Homo sapiens: one gene and its partners. The gene in region 1 interacts genetically with each later gene. Each region holds a gene or a part of one and is shown in the gene's direction. Other genes may lie near its edges. The genes, in order: CCNK, LIAS, NAA25, FDPS and RTF1.

What was found.
Region 2: changes in CCNK (region 1) and LIAS together harm fitness less than expected from each alone (positive genetic interaction), as found in Homo sapiens cells (one large-scale study listed by BioGRID).
Region 3: changes in CCNK (region 1) and NAA25 together harm fitness less than expected from each alone (positive genetic interaction), as found in Homo sapiens cells (one large-scale study listed by BioGRID).
Region 4: changes in CCNK (region 1) and FDPS together harm fitness more than expected from each alone (negative genetic interaction), as found in Homo sapiens cells (one large-scale study listed by BioGRID).
Region 5: changes in CCNK (region 1) and RTF1 together harm fitness less than expected from each alone (positive genetic interaction), as found in Homo sapiens cells (one large-scale study listed by BioGRID).

What each region holds. Positions count from the first base shown.
Region 1 is NC_000014.9:99,487,908-99,491,425, forward strand, and holds part of CCNK (cyclin-K), read left to right. Parts: intron 1-3,518. UniProt on the Homo sapiens protein: Regulatory subunit of cyclin-dependent kinases that mediates activation of target kinases.
Region 2 is NC_000004.12:39,472,552-39,476,069, forward strand, and holds part of LIAS (lipoyl synthase, mitochondrial isoform 1 precursor), read left to right. Parts: intron 1-548; coding exon 549-660; intron 661-3,518. UniProt on the Homo sapiens protein: Catalyzes the radical-mediated insertion of two sulfur atoms into the C-6 and C-8 positions of the octanoyl moiety bound to the lipoyl domains of lipoate-dependent enzymes, thereby converting the octanoylated domains into lipoylated derivatives.
Region 3 is NC_000012.12:112,042,766-112,046,283, reverse strand, and holds part of NAA25 (N-alpha-acetyltransferase 25, NatB auxiliary subunit), read left to right. Parts: exon of another isoform or gene 1-1,631; intron 1,632-2,415; coding exon 2,416-2,659; intron 2,660-3,072; coding exon 3,073-3,196; intron 3,197-3,518. UniProt on the Homo sapiens protein: Non-catalytic subunit of the NatB complex which catalyzes acetylation of the N-terminal methionine residues of peptides beginning with Met-Asp, Met-Glu, Met-Asn and Met-Gln. May play a role in normal cell-cycle progression.
Region 4 is NC_000001.11:155,315,348-155,318,865, forward strand, and holds part of FDPS (farnesyl pyrophosphate synthase), read left to right. Parts: intron 1-1,506; exon of another isoform or gene 1,507-2,593; coding exon 2,594-2,674; intron 2,675-2,821; coding exon 2,822-2,944; exon of another isoform or gene 2,945-3,049; intron 3,050-3,317; coding exon 3,318-3,406; intron 3,407-3,508; coding exon 3,509-3,518. UniProt on the Homo sapiens protein: Key enzyme in isoprenoid biosynthesis which catalyzes the formation of farnesyl diphosphate (FPP), a precursor for several classes of essential metabolites including sterols, dolichols, carotenoids, and ubiquinones.
Region 5 is NC_000015.10:41,420,087-41,423,604, forward strand, and holds part of RTF1 (RNA polymerase-associated protein RTF1 homolog), read left to right. Parts: intron 1-3,518. UniProt on the Homo sapiens protein: Component of the PAF1 complex (PAF1C) which has multiple functions during transcription by RNA polymerase II and is implicated in regulation of development and maintenance of embryonic stem cell pluripotency.

The sequences.
Region 1 (3,518 bases):
GGATTGATGAAGATAAGGAGTCCTCCTGGTCTCCTATTCAGTCTCATCTGACTTTTTCCCCAACTTTTTATTGTATGAAAGAATAGTGCAATGACAACTTATTTACCTGTGGACACATGTTCGTTTTTTGCCATGTTTACTGTGTGGTTGTGTTTTAGCTGAACCATTTGAAAGTAGGTTGCAGACATCATGACACTTTACCCAAAATACTTCAGCCTTCATCTGCTAAGAATAAAGTCATTCTCCTGTGTAATCACAATATCATTATTACCCCCAAAGAAAATTAACTGACAGTAATTCCCTCCCTAATACCCTCTAATATACAATTTATACTTAAATTTTTCCAAATTGTTTGAAATTTCTTTTTTTTAAAAAAAAAAAAAAAGCAGGATCTAATCAAGGTTCACACATTGCATTTTGTTGTAGCCCTCTTTAGCCTTTTTAAATCTAAGACAGTCTCTCAAAATGTTTTTTCATAACACTGTTTTGAAGAGACCGGGTCAGTTGTTGAGTAGAGTGTCTCACCTTCTGGATGTGACTGATAGTTTCCATGTTGTGCTTTTTTCACTTACTCTTGTACCACCAGTATTTATTGTAAACTGGAAGTTCGGTCAAAAGTTTGCTTAAATTTAGGTTAAGCTTTTGGGGGACAAGAATACTACATAGGTAGGTGATATTTATTTCACATTGCATCACATCAGAAGCCATGTAATGTCAGGTTTTCACCCTATTAGTGATGTCAAGTGTGATCATTTTGTTAAGGATCAACTGTATTTTTTTTACAGTAGTTAATATCCATGCTAGCAAAGTCGCATTTATTATCAGTAGCATTTTATTATCAGTAGTTATCAGTGCTAGCAAAGTATTATTCTCTATATGTATTAATATTATGGACACTTGGATTGTATGTTCACTATTTTATGATCAACCACAGTTATTTTTCTTTTTGCTATTCAAATTACCTTGGATTAGTCCAGTGGGCACCCATCATGGTGGCTCCTATGTCTTTTTTTTTTTTTTCCCTAGCAAATCATTCCTTCAGCAGTCCTATGTCTTTTGATAAGCTTTGATTAGTCTGAGTACATCCCAGGCAGGCTCCAACCCCAGACTGGAAAGAAACCTGCTTCCTTTTAGAGGGTATTGGTATTGAAAAAGTTAAGATTTCAGAATTAGGAGTGTCATTCCTTCTTGGTACTTGAAAAGGACAGAAATGGGATACATATATATATATTTTTTTTTAACCATGATTTATTTTGATATCTTCAGTTAAAGTTTAACATTACAGATTTGTTTCTTAACATTTGGTTTTCTGCATGTGTGCATTTGTTTTCTTTGCACTGAAAATCTTGGTTCCTAACAACATTAGCATTTACATATTTGCTTTATTCCACAACATGCAAAAAAAAATGTGTTTGAAAATTACAACATTAATGACACTACTAACAGTACACTAATGAAGTTTTAAAATTTCGTTGGGGCCAGCCACTGTGGCTCATACCCATAATCCTAGCACTTTGGGAGGCTAGGCGGGAGGATCGCTTGAGGCCAGGAGTTCGATGCTGCAGTGAACTAGGATCATGCCACTGCACTTATAGCCTGGGTGACAGAACAAGACTCTGACTCTAAAATAAGTAAGTAAGTAAATAAATAAACAAATAAATAATTCTTTTCAGTTATTTTTGTCCTTAGAATATATCTCACTAAGCATGTAACAATATCAGAAATTACTTGGAAGTAAGTTTCTGTGTGATTTTGTTGCCCATTTGGTTTGAGTTTTAGGATTTGCTTTTTTATTTTTAGTTAAGTGTATGAGTATGTTAAATATTTACATGATTCAAACATCAAAGTTATAAAAGTACTCTGCAGGGAGTCAAGCTGAAAGAGCACCTAATGGCCACATTGGAATAATTTGAGCAACAAAATAAATAATGATAGTATTGGATTATAACCCAAAGAATAAAATACTCATGTCTGTACTAAAGTAAATAAACAAATGGGAGAGAAGAAACAAATATTAACAAAATGATTCCAAATAATAAATGTTGAAGCAGTGAAGGAAATAGAAAGTCACCATTAGAACACCACAGTTGTAATCGTCTCAGGTGAATGCTAAAATTAGTAGATGAAACTTGAAGGAGAAATAGACATTTGTATAGTATTTTGCATTGTAAAATATTTCCCCCAAAATATTTACTTACTAGTGGGTGGTTTTAACATATGTCCACAATTTCTTTGATATCTCTGCCTCCAGAAAGTAGAGCTTAATTCCTTTACCCTTGAGTGTGGGCTGGACCTCGTGACTTGCATCTAAGGAATAGAAGATAGGAAGGGAAAAATAATAATTTACAGTGAGAAACCTGGTAGACTCCATCTTAACCAAGAGCTCATGGTTAACAGCAGTAAGTTGTTCTGATATCACCTGCACCCAAATATGATGTGTAGTTAATAGTGGTTATACCAAAGTTAATTTCTTTTTTTGGATAAATGAACCATGGTTATGGAAGATGTTTACATTGGGGAAGCTAAGTGAAGGGTATAGACAAAACTCATCTATCTTTACAGCTCTTCTGTAAACGTACAATTAGTTTAAAATAAAAGCTTTCATAAAAAGGCAAAGCTGTATAAAAAGATATATACATAGAGAAGTCTTGTTTCCATTCCTGTCTTTTCCATCCTGTTTTTCCCCATTCCTTATTGGTAAATATTTTTTGAATTACTTTAAAAAAATAGAGATGTCTGGCTGGGCGCGGTGGCTCACACCTGTAATTCCAGCACTTTGGGAGGCCGAGGCAGGCGGATCACGAGGTCAGGAGCTCCAGACCATCCCGGCTAACACGGCGAAACCCCATCTCTACTAAAAATACAAAAAAATTAGCCAGGCGTGGTGGCGGGCGCCTGTAGTCCCAGCTACTCGGGAGGCTGAGGCAGGAGAATGGCGTAAACCCAGGAGGTGGAGCTTGCAGTGAGCCGAGATCATGCCACTGGCACTCCAGCCTGGGCAACAGAGCAAGACTCCGTCTCAAAAAAAAAAAAAAAAAGAGATGTCTGTTTTTTCCCCTCCTTTCTTACATAGATGCTAACATACTGTGTACACTATCCTATACCTTGCTGATCTGGAAATTTCTCCATCCAGTACTTAACGATGTTTCTCATTCTTTTTAATAGCTGTGGGGTATGCTATTGTGTGCATGTGTCATATTTTACTCAGCCAGTCCCCTGATGATGGGCGTTTGGGTTGTTCATAGTTTTGCCATTATAAATAACACTACAGTGAATAATCTTGTGCACATGTTGTTTCATAGTTGTGACATTTCATAGTTAGGACAATATTTTCAGAGTCGATTCCCAGCAGTGGGAATCCTGGGTCAAAGAGCAAATGCATGTGTAATTTTGTTGGATATCGTCAACTTCTCTGTGACAGTTGGACCATTTTGTACTCCCACCAGAAGCTTATAAGATCACCTGCTTCTCTATAGCTTTGCCAACAGAGCAAATTGTCAAACTTTGGGATTTTTGCC
Region 2 (3,518 bases), on another chromosome or scaffold:
ACTCATTTACACTTGGTTATTGTGTAACTTGTTTTTGTTATGTTAGAGCCAGAGGCGAAGAAAGAATGGGAAACCATTCTTTCTATTTCTATCATGGACATTTATCCATTCATTCAAGAAGCTTGTGTTGAGCAGTGACCATGTGCCAGTCACAGTGCTAAGCAGAAGATACAAGTTGAGTAAGACAGTCTTGTCCTCAAGAATCAGATAAGCATGAGTAATTCTTGAATTTAGCTGTTAACGAAGGAAAAATATAGATAAATAATATCTGTAGATAATCTCTTCTTTCTCTGTCCTTTGGAATAGCCATTGTAGCACAAAATTGATATGCTTCCCTGTCTCTGTAATTCCCTGTATTTACATCCCAATAGAGTGGCCAAAAAGTAACCAGTAAACACGTAGTCAGGGAGGAGGGAGAGGACAAAAGCCTGGGGGTGGGGGCAAGATAAATTACGCAGTGAAGAGCATTCTGCATACATAGGTATAGACTTTCTGCAGAATCAAAGTGGAATTCTAAAATCTGATCAGAAGTAATTATTTAAATCTAGGTTGAAGAATATATTACTCCTGAAAAATTCAAATACTGGGAAAAAGTAGGAAATGAACTTGGATTTCATTATACTGCAAGTGGCCCTTTGGTGCGTTCTTCATATAAAGCAGGTAAGTTAGATTGTGGGGCATGGTTTCATTTAGGCCGTTAACTTTCCACATTAAGTTCTACCACCAGTCACTAAAACTCTTGACAAATTCTAATACCTTTGGTGGTCTTGGTAGAGGGCGTAGTTTTTCTTCTGGAACATCCTTAGGAGCTTTGCTCCATGGGGATCATATTAAGAAAAGTTTCTCTTAATCTTTTGTTTCTTAAACAAATTCAGCCCCCTGCTTTGTAACTCAGCTACTATAGTAAAAGCAGAAACAATTAGTTTATTAATTTTTTCTATGTGTAGATTTCAGTAGTAGGTTATTCAGAAATGACAGAGCATGTCAAGCATCTAATAGGGTTTTCTGAGAAATACATATTTATTTGGAAATGATGCCAGCTGCATCTCCAGACTCAGTTTCAATCAGTTTAAGCACTGAAAAGTATCTTATTTGATAGCATTGCTTGCATCATTAAATTTCTTTGTATTTTTCCCCCAGAGGCAACAGAAAAATATCCATAAGATTATTTTTCTCCGTAGGAACGTTTAGTTGTTTTACTAGCTACAATGCAAATTTTTTTTACTTTTGGAATTTCAGCTCTTATTTTAATCAATAGCTTGAATTGATTTATGAAAAGAAAATCATTTTCCAAGGGATAAAAAGTCATGTGATAATGATTGTCGGAGGATCCAAAAGAACATATCTGAAGACCGAATTTAATCTAGAAAGTGTTTATGATGTCCCTGTCAGTTGGACTTAACAATTATAATGATTAAGAATAAATTGGCTGGCCAGGTGGGGTGGCTCACACCTGTAATCCCAGCACTTTGGGAGGCTGAGGCGGGCAAATCACGAGGTCAGGAGATCGAGACCATCCTGGCTAACACGGTGAAACCCTCTCCACTAAAAATACAAAAAAATTAGCCGGGCATGGTGGCGGGCACCTGCAGTCCCAGCTACTCGGGAGGCTGAGGCAGCAGAATGGCATGAACCCAGGAGGCCGAGCTTGCAGTGAGCCGAGATTGTGCCACTGCACTCCAGCCTGGGCAACAGAGCAAGACTCTGTCTCAAAAAAAAAAAAAAAAAAAGAATAAATAGGCCAGGCAAGGTGGCTCATGCCTGTAATCCCAGCACTTTGGAAGGCAGTTGGATTACTTGAGCCTAGGAGTTCAAGGATGCAGTGAGCTATGATCGTGTCACTACAGCTCCAGCCTGGGTGACAGAGCAAGACACTGTGTCTCAAAAATAAAATAAAAAAAAGAAACAGCTAGGCCAGGTGTGGTGGTGTGTGCCTATAGTCCCAACTTCTTGGGAGACCGAGGCAGGAGGATCGCATGGGCCCAGGAGTTCAAATACAGCCTGAGCAACATTGTGAGATCTCATCTCTTTATTTTTTATTTTATTATTATTATTTTTTTTTTAGATGCAGTCTCTCTCCATCGCCCAGGCTGGAGTGCAGTGGCACAATCTTGACTCACTGCAACCTCTGCCTCTCAGGTTCACGGCATTCTCCTGCCTCAGCCTCCTGAGTAGCTGGGACTACAGGTGCCCGCCACCACGCCTGGCTAATTTTTTGTATTTTTAGTAGAGACGGGGTTTCACCGTGTTAGCCAGGATGACCTCGATCTCCTGACCTTGTGATCCGCCCACCTGGGCCTCCCAAAGTGCTGGGATTACAGGTGTGAGCCACCGCACCCGGCTGACCTTGTCTCTTTAAAAATAAACTAGGTATTGGCCAGGCGTGGTGGCTAATGCCTGAAATCCCAACACTTTGGGAGGCCGAGGTGGGCAGATCACAAGGTCAAGAGATTGAGATCATCCTGGCCAACATGGTGAAACCCCATCTCTACTAAAAATACAAAAATTAGCTGGGCATGGTGCTGCGCACCTGTAGTCCCAGCTACTCGGGAGGCTGAGGCAAGAGAATAGCTTGAACCTGGGAGGCAGAGGTTGCAGTGAGCCAAGATCCTGCCACTCCACTCCAGCCTGGCGAAAGAGCAACACTCTGTCTCCAAAAGAAAAAATATATATACAAAAATTAGCCGGGCATGGTGGTGTGTGCCTGTAGTCCCAGCTACTTGGGAGGCTGAGGCAGGAAAATTGCTTGAACCCGAGAGACAGAGGTTGTGGTGAGCCAAGATCATGCCACTGCACTCCAGTCTGGGCAACAGAGCAAGACTCTGTCTCAAAAATAAATAAATAAGTAAATAAATAAATAAACTAGGTATTTTTTTTTTTTATCTAAAGTGGTGATGTTTTAAATGATTGCTTTATATATTGGGGTCTAAATCTTAAATATGTTTAAATTAGACAAATTCTATTTGAAAAAATTAATGCTCCAGTATTAGTAATATTCTGTATGTTCCTAGTTCCTATAAAGACATTTAAGGCCGGGTGCAGTGGCTCACGCCTGTACTCCTAGCACTTTGGGAGGCCGAGGCGGGTGGATCACTTGAGCCCAGGAGTTCAAGACCAGCCTGGGCAACATGGCAAAACCCCATCTCTACAAAAATACAAAAATTAGCTGGGTGGCTGAGTTGCTGGGTGGTGGTGGGCACCTCTAGTTCTAGCTACCCAGGAGGTTGAGGTGGGAGGATCACCTGAGCCCAGGAGGTTGAGGCTGCAGTGAGCTGTGATCGTGCCACTGCACTCCAGCCTGGGTGACAGAATGAGACCCCGTCTCAAAAATAAATAAATAAAAATAGTAATTTAAAACATTTTAATGAACTAGTAGCTCATCATAGTTTGAAAACCCAAGAATTTGATTCAGCACTGAGTGACAGAATGTGGGGACTTTGAAAACCAGTAATTGTAAGTGATTTAGTCTTCAAGCAGCACTGCTGGCAAGCTAAAAATACATGTGAAGGATAGAACCA
Region 3 (3,518 bases), on another chromosome or scaffold:
CAGGGAAAAATGCAGTAACACAGGTGGAATGTTCCTGCTCAGGGAAACCCAGTAGAGACTTGGTGCTTAAGGTTTCATTGTTATGTGGGTACACTCTGTCTATCCTGAGTGGAAAGAAAGCAGGTATTCACCATAAACAACATGGTTTATATAAACAATCTAGGCACAGCGAGTCACTCTTACCATTTTAGGGAACAGTTGGAGTGCAAAGTTCCCAGACATCAGCCAAGGGCCAACCTTGCAAGTAGGCCTTTCTAACGATAATAGCTGCAGGCCTGCTATGTTAACTCTTTTCTACACATACTGTCATAAAAAGATGAAGTTTGCAAAATAATGTAATTACTGTAACCAATTTGTTTAAACTTAAGTTGCATACATACTATTTTTAGTTACTTTTTTTTTTAGATGGAGCCTCTGTTGCATACTGTAACCAATTTGTTTAAAATTGTTAAGTTGTGTAAGTATTATTTTTAGTTACTTTTTATTTTTGAGACCTAGTCTGTCTCTGTCGCCCAGGCTAGAGTGCAGTCGCATGATCTCGGCTCACTGCAACCCCCACCTCCTGGGTTCAAGGGATTCTCCTGCCTCAGCCTCCCAAGTAGCTGGGATTACAGGTCCCTGCCACCACGCCCGGCTAATTTTTGTATTTTTAGTAGAGATGGGGTTTTGCCATGTTGGCCAGGCTGATCTCAAACTCATGACCTCTGTTGATCCCCCCATCTGGGCCACTCAAAGTGCTGTGATTATAGGTGTGAGCTATCGCAACCAGCCCCTATTTTTTTTTTTTTTTTTTTTTTGTGATGGAGTCTCACTCTGTCGTCCAGGCTGGAGTGCGGTGGCGCAATCTCGGCTCACTGCAACCTCCGCCTCCCGGGTTCAAGCAATTCTCCTGCCTTAGCCTCAGCTGGGACTACAGGCGTGTGCCACCACGGCCGGCTAATTTTTTTTGTATTTTTAATAGAGATGGGATTTTACTGTGTTAGCCAGGATGGTCTCGATCTCCTGACCTCATGATCTGCCTGCCTCGGCCTCCCGAAGTGCTGGGATTACAGGCGTTAGCCACTGCACCGGGCCACACCCGCTATTTTTAGTTAGACTTTTATACATCCACATTACAAAAGTCTAAAAAGATCTATACCAAACTTGATAATACTGTGAGTATTGGTTATCAGGGCACCTTTTCTACGTTTTACATTTTTCTATCATTTGCATTTTTTATGTTGTGTATTATTTTTATTAGAGACAGGATCTTACCCAGGCTGGAGTACAGTGGCGTGACCATATCTCACTGCAGCCTTGAACTCCTGGGCTCAAGCAATCCTCCAATCTCAGCCTCCCTAGTAGCTGGGACTACAGGTGTGTGCCACCACGTCCAGCCAATTTTTTGTATTTTTTTTTTTTTTTTTTTAGAGACTGGGTCTTGCTATGTTTACCAGGCTGTTCTCCAACTCCTGGCCTCAAGCAGTCTCTCACCTCAGCTTCCCAAAGTGCTGGGATTACAGGTGTGAGCCACCACACCTGTCCTCATGTATTATTTTTATAATCAGAGAACAAAGTGTCACTTATAAGGAAAATGACCTGTTTTTTTTGTTTTGTTTTGTTTTGTTTTGTTTTGAGATGGAGTCTTGCTCTGTCGCCCAGGCTGGAGTGCAGTGGTGCAATCTTGGCTCACTGCAAGCTCCGCCTCCCTGGTTCATGCCATTCTCCTGTCTCAGCCTCCTGAGTAGCTGGGACTACAGGCGCCCACCACCACGCCCGGCTAATTTTTTGTATTTTTAGTAGAGACGGGGTTTCACCGTATTAGTCAGGATGATCTCGATCTCCTGACCTCGTGATCTGCCCACCTCGGCCTTCCAAAGTGCTGGGATAACAGGTGTGAGGCACCGTGCCCAGCCAAAAATGACCTGTTAAATAGGTTATCATTCCCATTTTATTGATAGTGAAATGGGGTTTGAGAACATTTTGGCTTGTCTTAGGTCATTCAGCTAGTAAATGAAAGCTGGAACCCTTCAAAGGCATCTTAACTGGTGAAAGTTAACTTTAAATGATTTGAGGCCAGGCGCGGTAGCTGACGCCTGTAATCCCAGCATTTTGGGAGGCCAAGGCAGGCAGATCACGAGGTCAGGAGATCAAGACCATCCTGGCTAACACGGTGAAAACCCGTCTCTACTAAAAATACAAAAAAAAAATTAGCCGGGCGTGGTGGCAGGCGCCTGTAGGCCCAGCTACTTGGGAGGCTGAGGCAGGAGAATGGCATGAACCTGGGAGGCAGAGCTTGCAGTGAGCAGAGATAGTGCCACTGCACTCCAGCCTGGGCGACAGATCAAGACTCTGTCTCAAAAAAAAAAAAAAAAATTGAAAGCAATGGATTGAATATTGAATAAGTTAGATAATTTGGGGATGTTTCTGTTTAAGGGACGTTTCTGAAGAACATAAGAAACTTTCCTTAGAGGAGGAGACCTTGTGGTTAAGAATCCGATCCTTAACATTGAGGCTGATAAGTGGACTTCCAAGTCTCAACCACCCTGTGGAGCCAAAGAACTCGGAGAAGACTGCCGAGAATGGGGTATCCTCCCGGATTGATATTCTTCGTTTGCTCCTTCAACAGCTGGAGGCAACCCTGGAGACAGGAAAGCGATTTATTGAGAAGGATATTCAGGTACCATCAATACATATTTACCATCAAAGTTGCAATAATTATATTTATGACTGTTTTATAAACAGGAGTTTGGGGTGGGTGAGTAGTAAGGAATTGTTTTGTCCCAGTTTATGGCTTCTGCAGGAGAAAGAGGAATATTTTAGACTCAGAGGGAATTGCAGAGGCTTCCTCAATATCCAGACTAGTGAGGGAGAAAGCAAAATAACTTTTTGTGGTGTTAAGTTTTTAATAGCTAGCAACAAATTAATATAAATGTTCTGTTTTTACTGTAATGATTCAGTTATTAGTTTGCTGATTAGTGGCTTTTAGCTGAACCGCTGAGACAGGTTTTTATCTACTAGTTACCTGATTTTCTTATTTTGTATGCATTTAGATGGATTTAAAAGAGCATTATTTTTCTCCCTTTTTTCCAGTATCCTTTCCTTGGTCCTGTACCTACCAGAATGGGTGGATTCTTTAATTCTGGCTGTTCTCAGTGCCAGATAAGCTCTTTTTATCTTGTCAATGATATTTATGAGCTGGATACCAGTGGTTTAGGTAAGTGTACACTGTGTGTTTATAGGGTCTTTGTCATAGAAAATGTAGTACACGTAATAAAATGTCTATAACCTCACATCTGGAAAATTTTAGAGTACATGGAAGCTGGAAGCTGTTCTGCAAATGTGTGGTGTAGTGTATGAGAGGGTACAGTCGTAGGTTACAAAGTAATGTTTTAGAAGCTTAAGTCCATTCCATATTTAAAATCACTTGTTAGGTCCAAAAGTTGAAGAAATTCTTCATTTGTTGAAAGGCTGTTGGATTTTAAAAATGAAGCAGTAGGCTGGGCGCAGTGGCTCACGCCTGTAATCCCAGCACTTTG
Region 4 (3,518 bases), on another chromosome or scaffold:
CAGCCTGACCAACATGGGGAAACCCCATCTCTACTGAAAATACAAAATTAGGCTGGGCGCAGTGGCTCATGCCTGTAATCCCAGCACTTTGGGAGGCTGAGGCGGGCGGATCATGAAGTCAGGAGATCGAGACCATCCTGGCTAACATGGTGAAACCCCGTCTCTACTAAGAATACAAAAAAAATATTAGCCGGGCATGGTGGCAGGCGCCTGTAGTCCCAGCTATTTGGGAGGCTGAGGTAGGAGAATGGCGTGAACCTGGGAGGCGGAGCTTGCAGTGAGCTGAGATTGTGCCACTGCACTCCAGCCTGGGCAACAAGAGCGAGACTCTGTCTCAAAAAAAAACAAAAAACAAAAAACAAAAAAAAAATTAGCCAGGCGTGGAGGCACATGCCTATAATCCCAGCTACTCAGGAGGCTGAGGCAGGAAAATCGCTTGAACCCGGGAGGCGGAGGTTGCAGTGAGCCAAGATCGCGCTATTGCACTCCAGCCTGGGCAACAAGAGCGAAACTCCATCTCAAAAAAAAAAAAACACACAAACCATGTCTTCTGCTCAAGCCTGGGTGACAGAGTGAGATCCTGTCTCAAAAGAAAATAATAATAAAAATTAAAACCTGGGTATAGGGCCGGGTGCATTGGCTCACACTTAAAATCCCAGCACTTTGGGAGGCCAAGGTGGATGGATCACGTGAGGTCAGGAGTTCGAGACCAGCCTGACCAACATGGTGAAACCTTGTCTCTACTAAAAACACAAAAATTAGCCGGGTGTGATGGCACGTGCCTGTAATCCCAGCTACTTGGGAGGCTGAGGCAGGAGAATCGCGTGAACCCGGGAGGCGGAGGTTGCAGTGAGCCGAGATTGCGCCATTGCACTCCAGCCTGGACAATGAGAGTGAAACTCCATCTCAAAAACAAAAACCTGGGTATGTATCTAGAAGTGGAAAAACAAAAAAAGGAAATAAGTTATGAAAATAAAAACCATGTCTTGAGCTGGGTGCGCTGGTGTGTGCCTATATCCCTAGATTCTCAAGAGTTGAGACAGGAGGATCACTTGAGCCCAGGAGTTCAAGTCCAACTTGGGCAACATGACAAGACCCTTGTCTCTTTAAAAAAGCAACCCAAACCATGTCTTGAAAAGCTATTTAATGGTCAGACACGATGGCTCACGCCTGTAATCCCAGCACTTTGGGAGGCCGAGGCAGGCGGATCACTTGAGGTCAGGAGTTCAAGACCAGCCTGGCCAACATGGCAAAACCCAGTCTCTACTGAATGAAAATACAAAAATTAGCTGGCCTAGCAGTTGGTGGTGGCAGGTGCCTGTAGTCCCAGCTACTTGGGAGGCTGAGGCAGGAGAATCGCTTGAATTTGGGAGGCGGAGGTTACAGTGAACCCACATGGCGCCACTGCACTCCAGCTTGGGTGATAGAGTGAGACTCTATCTCAAAAAAAAAAAAAAAGAAAAGCTATTTAAGGAACCAAAACATAGTTTGACTGACTGCAAGAAGTATCACAGGGAATGTTAGAGTGTTTTATTAATTTCTTTGTCAGACAAGTGTTTAGGAAACTCTCACTCCAGGCCTAATGCTGTGCTAGGCTCTGCAAATGCTAAGAGGGGGAAGTTACTGTCCCTGCTTCCAAGGAGATCATGGTCTAGTGGGAAACCCGACACGTTCAGGTACCTTCAGATGGGCACTCAGAAGAGTAAGCCCTTAGTTAATGTTTAAAGATGTTTAAAGATGTCTGAGACTCATAGGTCAAAGTCAGATTTCAGTTCCACCTTATTAGACCTGCACTGCTAAGGAGCTGCTTTAGGTAAGGCTGTGTTCCTAGTCACCAGGGTGTTCAAACACAGTGCTGGGGGCAATGTGGGAATAGCCTTCTTTTATTTAGGAAGTAATGTGAAGTCAGTTTCATGAATAGATCTTACTTTAAGCATTCATTGAGGTTTTTGGCAAGAATAGAGTACGGTATATGAAGGTGTTTCCTAATCTCCCTGACACCAGGAATAATCTAGGGCTCATTAGAGATGTCAAAGATCTGTTCTAGTTTCTTAACCTAAAACAAGAGTGTTTTAGTTCCATTTTATAGGCGGGGAGTCTGAGCCAAACATGTTATGTCACTTTCCAAGTCTCCATAGCACAGAAGTCTTCTGTCTCCCCATCCTGACTTTCCCAGCTCATAGGGACTGTCAAAGGCAGCAGCTCTGGCCGGCTGTGATGCCTCATGCCTGTAATCCCAGTAATTTGGGAGGCTGAGGCAGGAGGATCATTTGAACCCAGGGGTTCAAAACCAGCCTGAGCAACATAGTGGGACCCTGTCTCTACAAAAAATAAATTAAAAAAAAAAAATAGCCAGGCATGGGGTATGTGCCTATGGTCTCAGGAACTCAGGAAGCTGAAGTGGGAGGATCACTTGAGCCTGGGAGTTAGAGGCTACAGTGAGCTGTGACTGCACCACTGCACTGGATAATAGTGAGACTCTGTCCCCTACCAAAAAAAAGCAAAACTATATACAGATATAAAGTAGCAGCTCTGTTGCTGATAGAAGGAACAGTAATGAGGAGCCCTGCAGGTCTTATTCCACTCTTTCTAGCTGCAAGCTTTCTTCCTGGTGGCAGATGACATCATGGATTCATCCCTTACCCGCCGGGGACAGATCTGCTGGTATCAGAAGGTAATGTGGGCAGGAAAATAGCAGTGGGTATGGGGACAGGCCACAGGGAGGTGGTTATATATGGCCTGGTTGAGGTGTTGGGGTGATGGCTCTTAGTATGAACCGAGACTAGAGATTGATTGCTTGTTTTTCTGTCTGTCATGACAGCCGGGCGTGGGTTTGGATGCCATCAATGATGCTAACCTCCTGGAAGCATGTATCTACCGCCTGCTGAAGCTCTATTGCCGGGAGCAGCCCTATTACCTGAACCTGATCGAGCTCTTCCTGCAGGTGTATTGCAGACAGGGCCCGATGCCCAGAGGGTGCCCATGGTAGCCTTGGCCTCTATAGGACATGCTCATCTAGCTGGTTTCAGGGTACAGGATTGCAGCGTGCCTGGAAGGGAAAGAAAGCGAGGAAGGGTGTTGGGAAGTGGGGTTGTGGTAGTGGCAAGAAAGGGCTTCTCTGTCCTGTGTAATTGGAAGAAAGGGTGATAAAGGACTGTGTGTATGAATATGGGCCTTAAGTTTTGGGGCTTTCTCCCCTTCTGTTGCCTTTCTGATTCTGCCCAGTTGTCAGCTGGTATGGGATGTTGGGCTTGGGATACCAGGGTTTCGCATATCTGGAGAAAGCCTGGCTCATGGACCGTCTTTGTCTTGCTTAGAGTTCCTATCAGACTGAGATTGGGCAGACCCTGGACCTCCTCACAGCCCCCCAGGGCAATGTGGATCTTGTCAGATTCACTGAAAAGAGGTGAGGGGAGGTGAGGGACAGCGCGAACCATGTCTGGACAGCGAGGGAGGGCTCAGGATGTGCATTGCCCTCCTGAGGAGTTTCTCTTCTCCCCTTACTCAGGTACAAATCT
Region 5 (3,518 bases), on another chromosome or scaffold:
CTGGGATTACAGGCATGAGCCACCGTGCTTGGCCGGAATTGCAATTTTAAATCCAATTCTAAATATCTATTTGTAAAAGGAAATTAACATAAAATGTGTAATACCTAATACATTTTAACAACAAATTTAACTTCCTCCCCTTCAGCTTCTTATTTGCATTCTTGTTATCAGATGGGAACTAGATCAAAATTCCCTTTCCCTGCACATCCTAACAGGGGTATTGATGCCTTCAGTTTGTCTGTTCAGCACTATGCCAGACTCTCAGAATAATCAAAGAGGAAGATCTCTGCCCTCTAGACATTTTCACGAAAGACCTTTAGCACAAGTTCACTGTCAGTGCTGCTTGGGGGTCTTTAGGAATCCTAATGCATTCTGGATCTTTCCTGCCCCAAATACCTTGTGCTGCTCCATCTGGTTCTGAGTCTTCACTGGGGGTATAACATTAGACTTGCTGTCTAGCGTATGGTACTTGTGGAAGGAACAAACCATGACAGATCACTGAGTATCTAGTGTGGATTGGAATGCAGTTCGTAAGGAGGCCTTTTGTCCCTGGGTTTTTCAGATGGGAATCTGAGCCATTATGTCAAAAATTTTACCTCCAATTTATTCCTTACTGAAGGTGAGATATATGGGCCTTCTAGGCTGGTTTTTCCTGGTGGTAGGGGCAGACCTCTGTGTCAGAAGCCACCTGGGTTGCTTATTTAAAATGTAGGTTGGGACTTAGAGGGTGCAGCAGTTCCCATCCTAGACCTACTGAATCAGACTCTCAGGGGATAGAGGTCTGGACTCTGCATTTGTAACAGGTATAGCTCAAGTAATTATGATTTATGTTAGTGATTAAGATCACTGCCTATATGCAGGTTAATCTTTTTAGTAACACACTATAAGTATTTAGAAGAGAAATAGCTTCCTGTGTCTGCCATAGTACTTCCAAATTAAGCGTACATGTATAGGCTGGGCATGGTGGCTCATGCCCTGTAATCTCAGCACTTTGGGAGGCCAAAGTGGGAGGAACACTTGAGCCCAGGTGTTTGAGATCAGCGTAGGCAACAAAGTGAGACCTCATCTGTACAAAGACTTTAAAAATTGGCCAGGTGCAGTGGCTCATACCTGTAATCCCAGCACTTTGGGAGGCCGAGGTGGGCGGATCACCTGAGGTTGGGAGTTTGAGACCAGCCTGACCAACATGGAGAAACCTCGTCTCTACTAAAAATACAAAATTAGCCAGGCATGGTGGTGCTTGCCTGTAATCCCAGTTACTCAGAAGGCTGAGGCAGGAGAATCACTTGAACCCAGGAGGTGGAGGCTGTGGTGAGCCGAGATCGTGCCATTGCACTCCAGCCTGGGAAACAAGAGTGAAACTCTGTATTAAAAAAAAAAAAAAAAGAATTTAAAAATTAGCTGGGCATGGTGGCGTGCCTCTAGTCTCAGCTACTTGGGAGTCTGGGGTGGGAGGATTGCTTGAGCCTGGGAGGTTGAAGTTGCAGTTACTTGTGGTCCCACCGTTTCTCTTCAGCCCAGGTAACAGAGTGAGACCCTGTCCCAAAGAAAAAAAAAAAAAAGGCACTTGTATAACTAAAAGAACTTGACAGGGAGGTTTTAAGATGGCAAAACTACTGGTTCTTTTTTTTTTTTTTTTTAGGCAGGGTTTCACTCCTGTCACCCAGGCTGGAGTGCAGTGGCACAATTACAGCTCACGGCTGTAGCGTTGACCTCCCTAGCTCAGTGATCCTTCCCCCTCAGCCTCTCAAGTAGCTGGGACTACAGGTGTGCACCACCACACCCAGCTAATTTTTAAAATCATTTGTAGAGATGGGGGTCCCACTACATTGCCTAGGCTAGTCTGAAACTCCTGGGCTTGGGTGATTCTCAGGCTTTGGCCTCCCAAAGTGCTGGAATTACAGGTGTGAGCTGCCACACCAGGCCTTATTTATTTATTTGTTTGTTTGTTTATTTATTTATTTTTGAGATGGAGTCTCACTCTATCGCCCAGACTGGAGTACAATAGCACGATCTCGACTCACTGCACCTTCCACCTCCTGGGTTCAAGCAATTCTCCTGCCTCAGCCTCCTGGGTAGCTGAGATTACAGGCGCCTGCCACCACACCTGGCTAATTTTTTGTATTTTCAGTAGAGACGCTATGTTGGCCAGACTGGTCTCTAACTCCTGGCCTCAGGTGATCCAGCACCTGGCCTTATTTTAACCTTTGAAAGTTTTTAAAACTAAGACCTAGTTTGAGAGTTTGAAAGCTTTTCTTTTAGCATTTGACCTGATAGTGACTCTGTCCTTATTTTGACCACACCCTTTCTTCAACATTTTTAAATTTCAAGATACTTGCTGTTGGTGCCTATTGGGAAATAATAATTTGAGGCAAACCTCTGGGCTCTATGTCATCTCCCTTTATGGAATAATATTTATGCAGTAAGTCCTATAAAATGAAAAGCATTCAAGATAATAAAGGAACCAGAGTTCTCAATTCAAATCAGTACAACTCCGTATTTATAAAAATTTTACTCTACCTTTCTAAAAAACTAAAAATTGAGCTATGTGCACACTGGGATGCTTTATTTTATAGGTTTCTTATTTAAAATGGAGATTATATTGTCATGTCCTGTTTTTCTCTGTTTATCTAACTTGAAGTAGCAATAATTAAATTTGTCTTTGAGAGAATAGGCCCCCCTAAGTATTTTCTTTTTTCTTTTTTTTGAGACGGAGTCTCGCTCTGTCACCCAGGCTGGAGTGCAGTGGCGCGATCTTGGCTCCTGCAGCCTCCGCCTCCCGGGTTCAAACAATTCTCTGCCTCAGCCTTCCGAGTAGCTTGGATTACAGGCGCACGCCACCACGTCCAGCTAATTTTTGTATTTTTAGTAGAGACGGGGTTTCACCATCTTGGCCAGGCTGGTCTTGAACTCCTGACCTCGTGATCCACCCTCCTCGGCCTCCCAAAGTGTTGGGATTACAGGCGTGAACCACCGTGCCCGGCCAGCCCTGTAAGTATTTTCTAGGAGCTGTTTTTAGATACTACATGTAAAGAATATTATTATTATAAAGTATACTTCTATAAACCTTCCCCATAAATCTTGAGAAATTTAAAAGTTGTGCTTCTTGTTAATGTAGTGTTTTCCGCATTAATCAGAGGCAAATTTTGAAGTGTAGGAAGAGTTTGTGAGAAGTGTCAGTGTTAATTTGTGAAAACTTTAATTTGTGTCATGTTGCATCTAGCTTGATGTAATTCGCTTGTTAATTTCACTCTTTTCAAAGAGTGAGTCCCATGGGAGCTCCCTCCCCACCCAGCCCCCACCCAAGATGGAGTCTTGCTCTGTCACCCAGGCTGGAGAGCAATGGCACGCTGGGCTCACTGTAGCCTCCGCCTCTAGGTTCAAGTGATTCTCCTGCCTTAGCCTCCCGAGTAGCTGGGATGACAGGCACGCGCCACCACTCCCGGCTAATTTTACATTTTTATTAGAGATGGGGTTTCTCCATGTTGGTCAGTCTGGTCTCAAACTCCCGACCTCAG